2 separate regions of the Homo sapiens genome follow, and region 1 is linked to region 2. A link means that fine-mapping ties the variant in region 2 to the expression of a gene that starts in the linked region. Tissue or cell type: cerebellum. Region 2 holds a variant in brackets; the other region holds the start of a gene. All regions are shown on one strand. Distances are from middle to middle.

Region 1 (8,333 bases), 21 kb before region 2:
ATAGAGGGAGAGGGAAGACTTGGGCTTGTGCACTGTGGCTGGAGAGAAACTCAGTCTTACCCATGATAAGATCCTGCCTCCCACATGATATGGCTTCAAAGGCAGTGTTATGAGTCGAATTGTGTCCGCCAAAATTAATGTGGTAATATCCTAATCCCCAGTACCTCAGAATGCGACTGTATTTTGAGACAGGGTCTTTAAAGAAGTGATTCAGGGCTGGGCGTGGTGGCTCATGCCTGTAATCCCAGCACTTTGGGAGACCAAGGTGGGCAGATCACAAGGTCAAGAGATCGTGACCATCCTGGCCAACATGGTGAAACCCCGTCTCTACTAAAAATACAAAAATTATCTGTGTGTGGTGGTGCACACCTGTAGTCCCGGCTACTCGGGAGCCTGAGGCAGAAGAATCGCTTGAACCCGGAAGGTGGAGGTTGCAGTGAGCCAAGATTGTGCCACTGCACTCCAGCCTGGCGACAGAGCGAGACTCCATCTCAAAAAAAAAAAGAAAGAAAGAGAGAGAGAGAGAGAGACAGAAGAAAGAAAGAAAGAAAGAAAGAAAGAAAGAAAGAAAGAAAGAAAGAAAGAAAGAAAGAAAGTGATTCAGTTACAAAGAGGCCATTAGAGTTGGTCTTCATCTAATCTGACTGTTTAATTTACAAGAAAAGGAAATATGGACACACAAAGAGACCCAAGGATGCACACAGATAGAAGAAAGATACAGCAAGAAGGCAGCCGTCTGCAAGCCAAGGAGAGGCCTCCAAAGAAACCTATCCTGCTGACACCATGATCTTCTACCTCCAGCCTCCAGAACTGTGACGAAATCAACTTCTATTGTTGAAGCCATGCTGTCTGTGGTACTTTGTAATGGCAGGCCAAGCTGACTATCAGGCCGTTGGAGCTGGGGAGGACCAGGTGCCTGAAGGAAAGTGTCAGGATGAAAGTGGACGGAAGGCCAAAGCTTTCCAAGCCTAGGTTATTCGTAGAACCATAAATGGGTGACTTAGCCACAGTTCCCAGGAGGCGTGTCTATTCACGGGGGACTGGAGGGCAGTGCCCTGAGTCTAAGGTTCCCTTTGATTCTTAAATTTCCACAGCACATTTCCGGAAGCCAGCCTTTCACATTCCCATCTCATTTTACGCCCACCCACCCACCAGTTGTTGGGGGTCACAGTGGGTGGGTGGTCTGATGTCTGACTTGGACTCCAGATCTCGTCCGGGTATAAACTGCAGGCTGAGAATTCTTGGGAAGCCTCCAAGGCAGGACCACTATCTGTGCTCTTCCTTATCAAAGTGGAGTCATTTATATTTTAATGAGATTATTTCCCAACACAACAGTTTATCTTTCATTTCATTTATCCCTTTGCCATCTGGTCCCCTTATGTTTGCATGTAGGGCTAGTGGCTTTCTTTGTCTAAGTAGATTTGTCAATAGTTTATAAATTTTCTTCTCATGATCATAATATTTATTTTTCACATTAGACAGACTCTTCTGGAGTCTTGGAAGAAAGAGATTTCTTTTTTTTTAATTTTAATGTCATTCTTTAACCTGTAATTTTTGTTTCTGGGAAATGTGTTTTCAAAAAGTAATTAATTAATTAAAATGAATGAGCAAAAGTTTCCAGACCAATATATTTTCTGGTTCTATTTGCTACTGGATAACCCTAACAAATATTTTACTTAAGGGACTAAATCAAGCTCGCCTAATAGCAAATGGTACAGATGCAATGAAAGTGGCCTAGCTTCCCTCTAAACTGAAATCCAAATCTGGGCAAATTCTATGTTCTGGAGATATTTATTTTTATCTGTTTTCAGTCTCTTGCTGTAAAGTTCTTATCTTAAAGCTACTTAGCTCCTCTTTTTTTGGCCCCCTCCCAATTACTCTTGGCCTTCTTAATTACTAATCCATCTCTTTCATCAGCAAAGTTGATGGACTCTATTTACCATCCGATTATCTTAAGTTTTTTCCTCCAAGACAGGGCTTTGGCATTCCAGTCCTATTCTAATGGCTGATGGCACTACATACCTCTCAGGTGCCTGGTGGGAAGGCCAGCCATGCCCATTGGCCTTGCCTTCTCTTGACCCAAAAAGCTCCATTAGGCCAGAAAATAGCTCTGGCCTATTCCTCAACATATCCCCAGCACCAGCCCCTGCCTAGTACACACTGAGTGTTCAATAAATAAATGAATGAACTGCCTTGTTTTCTAACACACCAACACATGCAATAATATAAACAGAGACTGAAACATGCTTTATAGGTGAAATACAACAAAAGATTGATGTTCAGACCTTTCTGAGAAAAAGTGATTAAAAAATCAGCAATATCTTTTATTCATATGCTTCGTAGTTTCTAAGGGGCTTTGAATCTCCTGTGAGATTTATATCAACAACCCCATTTTAAGGACAAAGGAAGCCTCACAAGAATTTTGTGAGATTTAAATAAATCATGTATGTAAAATCCTTACCACAAAGACTGACATGTAGTAAGAACTTTGGAAACAGTTGATGGTCTATCCTTTTTCTCTATCGAGAGTTTAAAGAACTAGTACATGATGGATTCCGATCCAGAAGTCAGGTTTCATGTTTCCTAGCCTGTTACACTTCCTGCCATACCTCAGTATTCCCCCAACACTGTTCTCAGGCTCTGATAGGAATATCTTTAGGGCAGCAGTCAAGACACCCTAAGCAGACCAGTGACACTTTTCTGTCCCCATCTTAAAGGGGTGGAGGAGAGCATCGTACCCCCATGATTAAAGAGACTGACATTAAACAGCTGGACTATGGAGTGTGGGAACCATGTAAGTTTAGGGGCTAGATACCCTGCAGTGATCACTTGAAGGTTCTTGTGCTGGTTACCTGCCAGCAACTCTTATACCCCGCCCTCCCAAAAAATGGGCCAGGTGCAATGCCTCATGCCTATAGTCCCAGCACTTTGAGAGGCCGAGGCAGGAGGATCACTTGAGGCCAGGAGTTCGAGACCAGCCTAGGCAACATATTTTTCTCTACAAAAAAATTAAAACTCAGCTGGGCATGGTGGCACGCCTGTAGTCCCAGCTACTCAGGAGGCTGGGAGGATCACTTGAATCAGGGAGGTGGAGGCTGTAGTGAGCTGTGATTGTGCCACTGTACTCTAGCCTGGGCAACAGAGTAAGACCCTGTCTCAAACAAACAAGCAAAAAATGAAGTGAGGCTTTTAAAACCTGGGAACTGAAGCAGAAAGCCATGCATCACTAGAATACAGTGATACCGTTCAAGCTTCTCTTCCATATAATAAATGCATCACTGAGTTGCCATTAGACTGCTATGCCAATGATGAATGATAACACTGTGTCCCCTGTGGGCGAGGGGAACCTGAATCCATGCATCATTTTGAGATGTGGCTTGAGGTTTTGGTCTGGCATGCCCTTTCTCTGGATATTTGAGAAAGGCAGAAATCATTTAAATAGCATCTCATTTTCCAAAGCCCATCTTCTAAAAGTCATGCTGATTTCACCCTTTCTTCCCTGGCCTTTTCCTTAGTACCATCTTCCTGAGGATACAACTGGCCCACTCATCAGCCTTCTAGGTAAGTGGCACAGGCTCCAGCTACCTTAAGTGGACTACCTGGCTTCCCTGCTCACTGATAGGGTGTCCTGGGACCAGGCACTCGAACTCGGTAGGGTTTAGTTTCCTTGACGGTAAAATAGAAAAGTAAGCCTGTTTCACAGCACTTCCCTGAGGATCAAATGAGGCACAGTTTGAATTGTTCCCACACAGAGTAAATAAAGGCAGGTTCCCTCCTGGCTGCAAGATAAAAAATGGGCAGGGGAATCTCCCTTGAAGAACTGGCACGCTCCTTTCTTTCAGCTAATGCCCACCAATATGTCCATTGCTGTTTGGGGTGCAAGAAATTTTAGGCTCAGTAAGGACAATTCCTCCCAATGGTTTGGATAGGGCTGTCAGAACTAAATTCAAGTTGTTCGAAGTCTCCTTCCGCCCGCCCTGCCAACTTGCCTCCCTCTTCACCCTCCTAATAGGAGGTGAGCCCCTCCAATAGCGATCATTAACTCACCCTAAGGTTATCCCCTTGCTGCAACAACCCGTGAATTGCAGGTTCATTCAATGCTCTTTAAATTATTTTTAAAGGCTTTTTTTTTTTTAAGTAGCAAAAGAATGCATGACACCTATTGTAAACTGGCAAGTTGAGGGGGTGGGATGCCGCTCAGACGTGTACTGAGAAAGGTGATAATGAATTTGGCGTCAGCAATTCTTCAGAAACTATAAGAAAACACCCAGGTGTTCGAATTGGTCCCAAAAGGGAAACAAATCCTTCCCAGCTTTCACGATGCGCTGAGGTTGGTTTTCTCAGTGCTCCTCCCAGATCAGGAGGTGGGGAACCTCGTGGCAAGCCCTGGGGCTCGGGATTCCCGGACTGTGGGCCTGGGGGAGAGAGGCGGCTCTCGTGTGCACACTTACCCCGCCCCCACAACACACACGCGGTCACGCACCACAGACGGGCACACGCGCTCAGCACAGCCACAGTCGCGTGCAACCAGGAGTGCACACCGCACCCACATCACACCGCATGCACAGACGCACGGGTGTGAGACCACACACCTCGGCCACTCACGCTCACACGCCCCCCACGCGCTCGCACACGCGCTCGCACGCGCACTCCCCGCGCACCGCCGCGCGCACACGCGGGTCCCGCCGGACGGCGAGGGGCGGGGCGGGCGCGGGCGCAGGCGCGGGTGCCCAGCCGGGCGCGGTCGGGAGAGGGCGCGGCGCGGGGTTCGCGGCTGGCGCTTGAGTTGTTTGCCGGCTCCCGGGCCGCCAGACGCTCGGAGGGAGCCCGGCCGGCTCGGACTGGGCGGCCGGGAGGGAGGGCGCCCCGGGTCACGACGGCGCCCGCAAGCCGAGCGCGGCCGGGACGTGCACCATGGACCCAAAGGCGGGCGGCGGCGGCGAGGAGGACGACTGCGTGGACTCGGGCGCCGAGACCGGAGGGTGAGCCGCGCCGGGCCGGGCCGCGGGCGGGGGGCGCTCTCCGAGTTGCGCGGCGGCTCCTCCCCGGACGGGGACCCTCCTGATCCGTGCGACGGGACCGGGGCGCGGGGCTTCTCCTCCTGCCGGATCCCCCGCTCTCTCCTGGGCGGGCCGCGCTGCCCTGGGCAGGGCGGGCACCACCCGGGGGGAGGAAAGTGGAAGGACTCAAGGTTCAGTGCAAGCCCACCCATCCTGTGAGGCGATGCAGAGCGCCAGGCGGATGCAAAGACCCCTTGTCTGCATCGCTAGAGACAGGAGATGCTCTTGCACTTGTTTCCTCCTTCCTCGGGGACTTTCCTCCTGTAGCTCCGGAGCCCCCTGGAGTCCGGCCCTGGAGATCGGGAGAGGAAGAAAAGCAGGGTGGGACACCCGCACCTAAAAGTCTTTCCGAAGTCGGCTAGGAGGATGGCATTTCTCGTTATATGGCTTCATCGTGGGACTTTAATCTGTGCTGCCGAGTCCCCCTCCCCGACTCCTCCAGTCCCGCCGAACTTCCTCACCTCTAAGTGCACCTGTCCCAGCTGGACCCTTTGGCCTGTTGTACCGGCGGGATGGAGATGGTGTTGGGATTAGGATCTAGCCCTGCCTTTTTTTTTTTTTAATATTCTCTTCGCTTCAGCGGACTCAAACAATGGGCTCAAACCTTTGGAGACTAATTAGTTAGTCTCCAAACACTGTTTTCCTGAGCGGAAGAAAAGACAAAATGCCTTTTAGGAGATGAATGTCGTTATAAAGGCTTCCAGGCAGCCTCTGTCTCTAAAGGACTTTCCTGTGCAGAGTCAGCACCACATCCAGGCCGCGGGTACTGACCCAGGAGGAAAGGGTGTTTTTTCCTATCTGGAGTAATCCTGGGGGAGGGCGGGAGCTGCCTAGACTACAGAAAGCCTCATTCCTGGAAGGTCGGAGAGGTTTTAGACTAATCTCAGGATTTGGCAACCCTGTGAGGGCAGGTAGAGAATCCAGGCCCACGATCGACCCAGAGTTCTAACCCAACCCCGGCAAAGCTCCCCACAGGGCCCCTCCTGCCCCACCACTCCTAGCCCAAATGCGGGACTTTACTCCCTAGGGCATTCACCCAGCAATGGGCTTTCTCTGTTATCCAAACTTATTCATAGCTCTCTACAGCACCCAATTATAATCTGGTGGAGTAACCTGATGCTAAATGCCAAACTTCCTTTCTTCTTCCCACTCTTTGTGTAAGTGGCATTTATCAACTTTAACAAGATTATTGGCTTTTTTTTTCTGCCATTAGTTAGCTGGACCATGAATAGAAGAAACAAAGCAAAATTAACCAGCTTATTTGTAACTGCGTTAAATAAAGCATTCACTAGTCTATTCATTTTCAATTTGCAGAACTCACCTAAAACTGATATTTTTTTCAAGGGCTCTGTCTTAGAGAAGGGAGAGGAAGTCCTGGACCCAGGGGGTGACATCGCCCCAGGATCTGGACATCAGCATGACAGCGGCCAGGCCTCCTGGGAGGGGCTCCCCACTCCTGCTGACACCAGAGCTTCTGTTCTCAGCCTCTGTCACTAAAATGTGTAGTTGTAACAGGACAGAATTGTTTAAAGAATTCTTGGCCAGGTGCGGTAGCTCGCGCCTATAATCCCAGCACTTTGGGTGGCCGAGGTGGGCGGATCACCTGAGGTCGGGAGTTTGAGACCAGCCTGGCCAACATGGAGAAACCTCATCCCTACTAAAAAATATACAGAATTAGCCAGGTGTGGTGGCGCATGCCTGTAATCCCAGCTACTCGGGAGGCTGAGGCAGGAGAATCGCTTGAACCCGGGAGGCGGAGGTTGCCATGAGCTGAGATCACGCCATTGCACTCCAGCATGGGCAACAAGAGCAAAACTCCATCTCCAAAAAAAAAGGAATTCTTACTGTATCACTAGTATCCTTAAGCTAAAGGTAAAATAGCATGCATTTCAATGTATGCTAATTAGTTTTGTGTTTGCCATATATTCACAGAGCCCTTGAATTTCAGTTATCAAAAAGCTGTTCATCGTTTCCCTGCTTTTCCAGAGCTTGCCCCCACCCCTTACCCTATCCAGCTTTCACAGAGATTATGTAGAAAGCACATAGAAGACAACAAGTGTTTGCTATCGTTAGTATTTTTAAAATGCAAATCTGATCATGTCTCTCCCTTTCAAACTTTTATGGCTCTGTTATCTACAAATGCAAGGAATTTAACGTGGCCTATATGCCCTGACTCCTGTTATGGAGTCCCTTCTTCCCTCCCTGGCCTTGTTTCTCAGCAGGTCCTTCTTTGCGCCTTGTATTTTTCTGTTTCCTCGCCTTTGTCAAGCTGCCCTCTTTGCCAGCTCTGCCCTTCCCACCTGACTTGCCTGTCTGCCAGGTGAAACTCTACTCTTCTTTCAGGACTCAGCTCAAGTGACACATCTGCTAAGGCAGTGATCCTTAATTTGGGGTCCATGAATTCCTTCAAGTTGTATGCAAAATGATGTGCTTTGTGAATTTGTATGAGAAGAGAACTTTTTTTTTTTATCAGATTCTCAAAGTAGCTGGTGATCTATTCCAAACCAAGTTTGGGCAAGATATGAGACATTTCATTTTCAACACACTGTGTCTGAGGTGTTGCAAGACATCCAAGTAAAGATGATGAATCAGCAGTTGGGTATATCTGTCTGGAACTCAGAAGGGAGGTCTTCATGATGACATTGCATTTGGGTACTATTTACCTAAAAATGGCAATGGAAGCTCTGGGAGAGACTAAATCAACTGAAGGTAATAGCAAGCACTTTCTTAGCATTTAGTATGTGCCACCTACTGTTCTAAGCCTTTATGTATTTCATGGACTCCTCGAATCCTTCAACAACTCTGTGCAGCAGGTGCTTTTTAAGACCAGCCTTGAGAAACTATATTTAAACGCCCAGTCAATGAGAATGAGCTGATAAAGGAGCCTGAGAAAGAGTAGACTTGGAGTCAAAGAAAGAAGAATATGAATCATTGAAGCCAAGGGAGGTTTGAGTTTTTGAGAAAGGAAGGAGAGATCAACTATGCTACTGAGAAACTAATGAAGATGAGGAACGCTAAATGTCTTTTTTAAATGGAGATGATGAAGTGAAGGAAGAGTGGTATTTCACAGCGGGGTGGTGGAGGCAGGAGCCAGATTAGAGTGGCTCTAGAAGGCAGTAGAAGGTGAAGAAAAGGAGACAGGTGGATTCCTTTGTCTGGAAAAAGGAGAGGCAAAAAGAGGCAGTAGCTAAAGGGGAGAGTGGAGTGAAGAAAGATTTCTTAAATATAGGTGCTAATTGAGCAATCAGTGTGATAGAAAGGATTCTATAGAAG
Region 2 (8,333 bases):
AGAAGCAGGTAGCAGCCTTACCTGTTGGACCATGGAAGTGGCAAATGAAACCTCTGAGATGAAGGAATCTACTGAAGCTGAACGTGTGAGTCCATTAGATTGTTATTTCATGGTGTGGGGCCTGTATATTCAGAGTCCTCTGAATGGGGGCCTGAAAAGCTAGGCAGTATTAACTATCTGACAGTTGATAAGAAAAAAGCAATAACCAAAGATATGCATCAGGAAATCACAGGGTAAGGACAGTATATGACACAGACAACTCCTTTGATGCTTTGCTACGCTGGCATCCATTTCCAAAAAAAATATGGTGTAGTCCTTCTGGTTTCAAAGGTCAGTTTTAGTTGTGTGACTTCAACTCGACAGAGGGTGTTGATTTCCATCCGGGATATGAAAGAAAAATGGAGGCAGACTTCTCGTGACTACTTTCTCCCCCCTTGAAAAGCTGAAGTGGTACTTCAGGGATATCTGGTCTACCAGAATCATCAGGATTTCCCCCAAGACAGGAAACGAAAGTGAATAACTGCCACTACTCCTTACCTTGATGTGCCTGGTGCTTTTCTCAATTTCAAAATAATTTTTTGCTACCCAAATAATACATAGTCATTGCAGAAAAATCAGAGAATACAGATTAGCAAAGAGAAGCAAACCCAGAATCCTACTATCCAGAAGCAACCATTATACATAATTTGGTGTCTGCCTTTGTAGGATTTTTTTCTGAGCATCTATATATTTATGTAGATATATAACATTTTGGGTAATAATTTACTAAAAAATGGCATTGTATATTTTGTTTTATAGTCTAATTTTCTAACTATAGTACAAACATCTTTATATGCCAGGAAACTCATCTCTATAATAGTTTGACTATTCATACAGTATTCCCTTATATTTTTGCACTGTACTTTATTCACCAGTTCACTATTGTTGGTCCTATAGGTTGTATTCACTGTTTTACTACTGTAAACAGCATTGCCAAAAACATCTTTCTAATAGGTCTTTGTGCATATCCTTCCTTATTAGAAAAAACTCCTACAATTGGAATTGCTGGGGTAAAAACTGTACTCTTTAAAGCTTTTGATCCCTATTGCTAGGGTATTCTCCAAAGGTGCCATTTCACTCTCCCACAGACATGGATGAGAGTGTCATAAAAATTGTGATTTTATGTACACAAAAGATTATCTGGATAGATACATATGTAGATAGATAGTAGGTTTTTTAAACAATAACAATGAGCAAAATTACTCTATGGAGTCGGTTATAAACGGGGAGACTTTCAGGTTTTGGAGAACCACAGGGAAATCTTTTCTGCTGCCCTCACTGGAAGTGTGGTATTGATGACAATCCTGCTCCAGCCTCGGACTACAGTAACAGCCACAGCAAAGCCATTGGTGCTCCGTCCAGCCTTTATGGAAAATATTTTCCACTCCAGTACAGTTTCTATCTTTGTTCAACATCCATACTGCTGTCTTTAACTGCTGATGGTATAACAAGTTAGAAGTAGCTGAAAAATATGATACAAAAAGCCAAGTCATATCCTTTCAAGGTTACAAAATTCAGAGTCGAAGAAAACTAAGATGATCCCATCATTCTTCCTTCTTTCTAAACCTTCTCTCCTTCTTCCACATTTGTGAAACTTCTATTTTGCACATCACCTGATTCGGGAAGGGAAGGAATGTTCCACATGCTCTCACTCCCCTTTTTATTTTGACCTGACTCTGACATCTTCTGACGTTATTATTGGCACACAAAGGAAGTGAAGCTGAGCAGTTCAACCTGTGCTTAGAAGAATGATTTTCCTTTTCGTAACAACAGTAGTTGCAAGACGTCTTTCCTTTGTCAATTATGGAGATAATTGGGCCTTTCTCTACAAGTCCATATTTAATATTTCATTGCCCCAGGCTTGAGGAGAGTGAGGCTCAAACATGTAGGGCCACAGATAGACTGAACTGGGAAGTTAGAGGTCTCTCTATGAGACAGTGTGATGAAGGGCTCGCCATCTGTTAGATTATAACACGTTCTGCTCTTCATTGAGAACTCCTATAAGAAGCTCCTATTATAAAGAGTATGAATTTTCAGTCACCAACTCAGACATAAAAGCAGTACTGCTTTATTTCTCTATAATTGAGCTGAACTTCATCTTGAGCTGCCGCCCTCACCCCCTAACAAGTGAAGACACAGTCCTGCTCTTCTCAGGGATCCCAATGCCTGCAGGGCTCAGCCCAGGAGAGGTTCAATCCATGATCCTTTCTCAGAACGCTTCTGGCACACAGATTTTCATCAAGTTCCTTCCAGTCGTCTTCCTCCCACCAGAAGCCCAAACTTGGCATCTGAGCTGGAAAAGCTGCCCTTGCAGCCCCACATGTTCTTCTGCCTTCTGGTTCACAGTGTGAACCCTCTGCTCTAGGTTTTTAGCCTTTCCTGGCTCAGAAAGCCTTTTCTGTCTCCAAAAGCCCAGCTCTTGCAACAGAGAGCCTTGCCCTTCAAGACCATTTCCTCTGTTATGAGTTAAAACAAAATTTTCAGAAATTCAATTACTAAGTTTATCTGCTGCCATCCTCCCTGAAGCAGTGAACAGCCAGGACTCTGTAGGTGGAGGGCCCCAAGGCGATTAAGAAAACTGTGGGAAAGGGAAACTTGGTTATTATTTCTGCATCCCATTCTCTGCGTCATTTAGAATGTATCATCTCCCATTTGTATTTTTGTTACATTTGTCACGTGTGAAGGTCTTGGCTTCTCAGTTAGATTTTAAGCTGCACAAAGGCAAGGACAAGCTATGTCTCCTCTTACTTGGAGTCCTTGGGGCAGGCACTTCAGGACTAGGTGCCACTGAGGTATAAAGGAGAAAGCCCTGAACTGGGAGTTGGGAGATGTTTGTTCTCTTTCTAGACCCACCATTGACAAGTGGCCTGACCCCAACTGTAAAATGAGGGGGCTGGACTGACTGTCTTACCCATCCTTAATTTTCTAGTCATGTCCAGTAAGTTTGTTCTCCAAATGGGCCCAAAGTACACATTTTCTAAGGAGACTTAGAAACAAGTACCGGAGACTTGTCAGTGTTATATTAAAATTTTCAAAATATTTGAATATTCCACTGAATTTTAGGCCAAAAAAAAAAAAATGAGTCCCCAGGCTCCATCCACTTCCTACATTGCTCGTTTGATCATGAGCAAAGCCAGTGCTGGATTTCGTCACTGCTGCATCTACTGCGTTCAGGACGTGTTTTATAAGCACATATGCAGTGGCTTTTCTTAGAAGAGTTGCAACGGCTAATCATTATTCATCTGATTTCTCAATATCCTGCCAGAATAAGTCCCTTTTTAAGATAAATCTTGACTAATATAATTGTAAGGATTCCTCCCACGAGCTCTAGTGTAAGACAGAGGCCTGGAGTTTCCTGATGAACAAATCCTTGGGATAGGCTTAGGCTAACATCTTCCTCTTTTGTCTTTTTTGTTTTGTTCTTTTTGGTAGATTTCTTTCATTTCCTAATACAAGATTAATATTAATTCTGTTCCTCTTGTTTCCAAGCCCTGCTCTGTCATCTCTGGATCTCCAGTATTTGTTGAGATCCTGACTTTCTCAGGATGACTTTGCTGCAAATGCAAATGACAAGCACATAATGTGGTTTAGAGAGAATTAAAATTACTGAGTAGAAGAAAGGACTCTGTGTAGAATGCTATAGCCTCTTCAGGCATTTTGAACCGTCAAATTTTTATGCAAGAGGAGTCTTAGTACATCATTAAGCATGGTACATTGCTGGGTGTCAGGCCTGCATTACTTCTCATAAACTTTCAAAGTCCTTGCAGTCCCAGGGACTTACACACGTATGCTAGATATGTTTAAGTGTTTCTAGCTGCAGTTATACCTCCTCAAACTAATTACATATCAACCTTCTGGTCTTCTCCCAGAATCTCTGTCAAGCTGTATCAGGATTTAAAGTGTCTGTCATTCCTTTGGTTGGTGTCCGGCTTTTGCTCCCCCTCCTTTTCCTATCAGGAGAGTATGTTTCAGAATGATGGACCTGAATGAAGCTTAGAAATACATTTAAAGTAAGATGGATGTCCCATTTCCAAGTGGAAAAAAAAACCGGCAGGGTATCTAAAGTATCTGCCTTACTTTCTATATATTTTTTTCTTAATAGTGTCCTGGTTTTAGAATGAGCTCAGGAATATGAATTAGACATCCACATCGCTGACATTGTTCCTCCAGCAAATCATAAAAAAAATGAGAGGGCGGTCGAATAACTGTTATAGCAAAGCCACCCTTCTTATAAAAGCGTGAGAGGGCCTATAGACCAGAAAGATCCTTTATTGTACTCCTCTGCCAAATGAAAATATAAGTTTTAGCTTAATCATTTCAGCCTAGGTTCA[G/A]TTCTTCAATTACAGGACACTTCTGTGAAATCAGGCTGAGGAAGAACCTTATGATCTATATTATAAATGCAGTTTGGATCTCCATGTTAAAAATCCTATATGTCACTTCACTGCCACCACAGGTCATTATTTCCAGCACTGCAACCAGTCTCGCCACTTTCACAGCCCAAAATTGCAGGCCAACAGGCCTTGTCAAAATTACAAAATTACCAAGAACAAAGTCTGAGATTTTGTCTTAAATATTGGTGGAGTAAGGGAGTTGCTTACACATTTTTCATTAGTTCAAAGTTTCAAAGAACTGGCTTCTAAAACTATGAAAAAAAGAGATGAAGGCAGGTTATTCATTACATTCCGGATGAATAGCGTCTCCCAGGAAGGAATTTGGAGGCCCCTTTCTGAAGGCATTTGTTTCTGGCGTTCTGGGGAATGCCTCAATGTGGGGAGGCTAGCCCTCTGCAAGTTTTGTGTTCAGCGTCACCCAGAGCCTTTTTCCCTCCTGCTTTCAGACCTGGTTGTTGGTTTTTTTTGTTTGTTTGTTTGTTTTGAGACAGAGTTTTGCCCTTATTGCCCAGGCTGGGGTGCAATGGTGTGATCTCAGCTTACTGCAACCACTACCTCCAGGGTTCAAGTGATTCTCCTGACTCAGCCTCCCAAGTATCTGGGACTACAGGCGCCCGCCACCACACCCGGCTAATTTTTTTGTATTTTTAGTAGAGACGGGGTTTCACCATGTTGCCCAGGCTGGTCTTGAACTCCTAACCTCAGGTGATCCACCTGCCTCGATCTCCGAAAATGCTGGGATTACAGGCTTCAGCCACCACGCCCAGCCCAGATCTGGTCTTTATTCACAGTGTCAGCCGGTGCCCTGGACATGTCTTTGTTGTGTGTGTGACGCACCGTCTCACCTGAGTTTTCTGCCACTGGATCATGTGGGTCTGGTTGGCAGACCAGTATCCCAGCCCCCAAGCCACTCAGTGCCGTTGATGGGGGCTTTAGAAATGCAAATAAGTGTTTATTCAACCTTATGCAGCTCTCAAGCCAGGCTCCAGGGCCAGATTCCTAAACCAAACAACCTGCAACAGCTGGAGGTGCCCTCCTTCACAGTCTGTTGGCCTCGTCGGGGATTACTGGGCACTGCAGTGTTGGCAGTAATTTTGGCACTGGAATGGCGCACAGCAGTTTATTCCGTCAATGGTAAATTGTTACAGCCACTGCCTTGGAAACCACGTTGAGCATGTGTGTGTTCAGTGAAGTGTCTGTCTGTAGGACTTAGCTACCCGGCTTACATCTTATATATTTGTTTATTGTCTGTCTCCCTCACTAGATTATAAGCTCTCTGAAGGCAGAGACTGTTTTATTCACCACTGTATCCTCTAGTGCCTGGCACATGGTGGGTGTTCAGTAAACATTCTTTGATTAAATAAATGATGAAACTAAATTGCAAATTGTCAGTGACAAATTGTGTCTAAAGTGACAATCATATTAATCGTTGCCCAAAAATTCTAGAAAGGGGTACCTGAGCTTGTCATATCCTGAGACTTGTCCAGGAAGTTCTTTTGGAATGAGAGATCTCTTCAACTAGACATGCCCACTGCTGGGGAGGGGGTGCTCTGGGGACACACCAGTTGGCCAGTTCTGGGAGGAGGGCTAGTCTGGCAGGCACCGGGCAAGCAGTGCAGGCATGGCTGATCTAAAGCCCAAGACTGCAGAGAGTGGTTGTGAGGGGCCCTGGCGCAAGCAGCATTGAGGTAGGTCCAGCACCCGGAAGTCTGTCAACAGGCAGACTGCCCTCTTCTTCCGAAGACTCCAGCTGAGGATGCCCACCCAGGCGAAACAGCCAGCCCATTCACAGCAGGCTCTCCCACCTAAGGTGGGTGAAGGAGCTAAGCCATGATTTCAGAGCCCCAGCCAATTTGGGGCAGAAAAACCAACGCGATGATTCCAAGTGAAGTGGCATCGTTCATCTGGGATAATACCCGAGGTTTGTTGTCTTCTGCCAAGGAAATCAAGGATGTGGACACACAAGGAGTGAGATTAAGAGCAGAGCTTTAATAAGCGAAAGAAAGAGAAAGGCTATCTCCTGCAGAGAGAGGGCTCCCAAGCAGGTGTCTGGTCTGCCACAAAATACTTAGGGTTGTGTAGATGAGCTTGAGGAGGTGGTGTCTGATTTACATAGGGCACAAAAGATTGGTCGGACCAGGTGTGCCATTTGCATAAGATGCAAAAAACTGGTTAGGACTAGGTGTGCCATTTGCACAGCATGTGAAAATCTGGCCGCCCCCCACTTTAATCTTTTATTATGCAGATGGATTCTCCACCTGGCGGATGCCATGTTGCCTGTTCCTTTACTGTACACACGGTGACAAAGAAAAGGGAAGATGGAGCCTCCAGGTTGAACATACCTGGCCCTCAGGTAGCCCTTTTCTATTGGCGCAGCTTCCGGCATTCATCTGTGCAAGCTTCCAGCTTGCTTATCTACATCTACAGCTCGAATTTTCAGACTGCTCTTTGTTAGAAAAGAAATGATTTGGGGGCTGCTTTTTTGTTAAAAGCAAAATTCTGCTAAGGGCTCTTTTATACTCACTATGTGCCTAAATAATTTCTTTCCATCTCCTGTATCACGAGGATTGTGCCCTTGAGTAGTGAGAGGACATAGTGGTGAGGAGCACAGATCCGGGGTTCAGACAGCCCTTGCTGTTCTCCAGGCAAATGGTCTTGAGCAGGTCAGTTAGTAGTTCATCTATCATAGTGTTGCTTTAAATGAAAGATTAAATGAGATAGTATACATAAAGCTTGTAGGACAATGTCTGGCAAATAATAAGAGCATAATAAATGGTTGCTATTGTCTAAATTAATTTTCTGTTAAATTTAAATGGCCAGAAACAGGATACACAGGAGAGGTAAAATGTTGGAAAAAATATATATATAACAAATGCCCAGGCTAATAGTACACTTTCTGCATCATAGAAGGCCTGAGCTTGTACACTGCTTTCTTTAACACTGTTTTCATTTTGTGTTATCAAAGGAAAGCCTAATTGTCTATAATCAAATGAAAAAGAATCTCCCTTCTCCTTAGGAAAACACAAACTAATTTGAAAGCCTTGTTAATGGTGTGCTAGCAGCTCCCATCCTCCCACCAGCCTTGGGGCAGTCTGTGCCACTGCTCTGTTTGGTTCTGGTCTGTGTTTTACCATAATTCAACAGGTGCTCGCTAGGTCCTTTGAGAAGACATGTAATAGATATGATAAAGGCAGAGCACATCCCACAGTCATGTCGTCTGTGTTTCTCCAGGGAGGCATAGAGACTTTTCGTGGCAATTAATTATTCACATTTTCTGTCCTTCCCCTCAAATGCTTGGTTTCCTATCCAGCTCCACAGAGGCATGTTTCTCGTGGGGTGGGGGGGGGTGTAACTCTAACACCTGATGACAGCTTGAAGCTGCGTTCTGTGTTCTTTGCTTGTGTTTTCAGGTCATGTGCAGCGGGTACGTGCTAGTGATGGCCAGAGCATGCTAATGCCACTGCTCATTCTCCTTAGCTCTTCTGGGGCAGGGTCTTAGCCACTTACATGTCCCTGGTTCAGGCAGTGCAGAGGGGGCTCTGGGGGTCGGGTCTTCGTCATCCTGGCTCGCCTGCTCTTGGCTGCCTCCCAAACTGCCAGGCGAGCTGGTACTTGGTGGAATGCCTTTCAGCTCACCCCCCTGCTCTGAGGCCGGGCATTTCGCCCTTCTGCAGAGCTGTAAACATTCACTCATCCATGCAGACTTCAGCATGGTCTTTGTTACTGCTCTCAGGGAAACCTTTGTGTAACTGATAGAGATGGCACAGGGCTGAGCGCCCTGACAGCTCCACTGGAGAGTCTCAGAAGCCACCTTCTCCCGGGCCTCTTCACACCCAAGCCTCTCACGCCATGCTATAGGCTTTCTTGGGTGACTGTTATGCATTCCTTTCACTTGTGCACCCA

Direction of the effects. Positions count from the first base shown, and alleles are read on the strand shown. Sizes are in standard deviations (SD) of each study's normalised expression.
In carriers of allele A in region 2, the expression in cerebellum of the gene that starts at base 4,811 in region 1 tends to be higher than with G alone (small effect, 0.40 SD a copy in GTEx).

What was found. PIP is the estimated chance that this variant, and not a neighbour inherited with it, causes the effect.
Region 1: FAM124A starts here. The variant in region 2 is fine-mapped to the expression of FAM124A in cerebellum (GTEx, PIP 0.97).

Annotation. Positions count from the first base shown.
Region 1 is chr13:51,217,588-51,225,920 of GRCh38, forward strand. FAM124A (family with sequence similarity 124 member A) reads left to right here and starts at 4,811. Exons shown (of 4, transcript NM_001242312.2): 1 at 4,811-4,982. The coding sequence starts at 4,915. RefSeq lists an enhancer at 3,959-4,749 and silencers at 4,530-4,579, 4,700-4,759.
Region 2 is chr13:51,238,637-51,246,969 of GRCh38, forward strand. The region is part of intron 2 of FAM124A (family with sequence similarity 124 member A); the gene reads left to right. Among named protein-coding and RNA genes, the nearest start is that of FAM124A, 20 kb to the left of the region's middle. RefSeq lists enhancers at 4,516-5,105, 5,106-5,694. The variant G/A (reference allele first, on the strand shown) is at 4,371.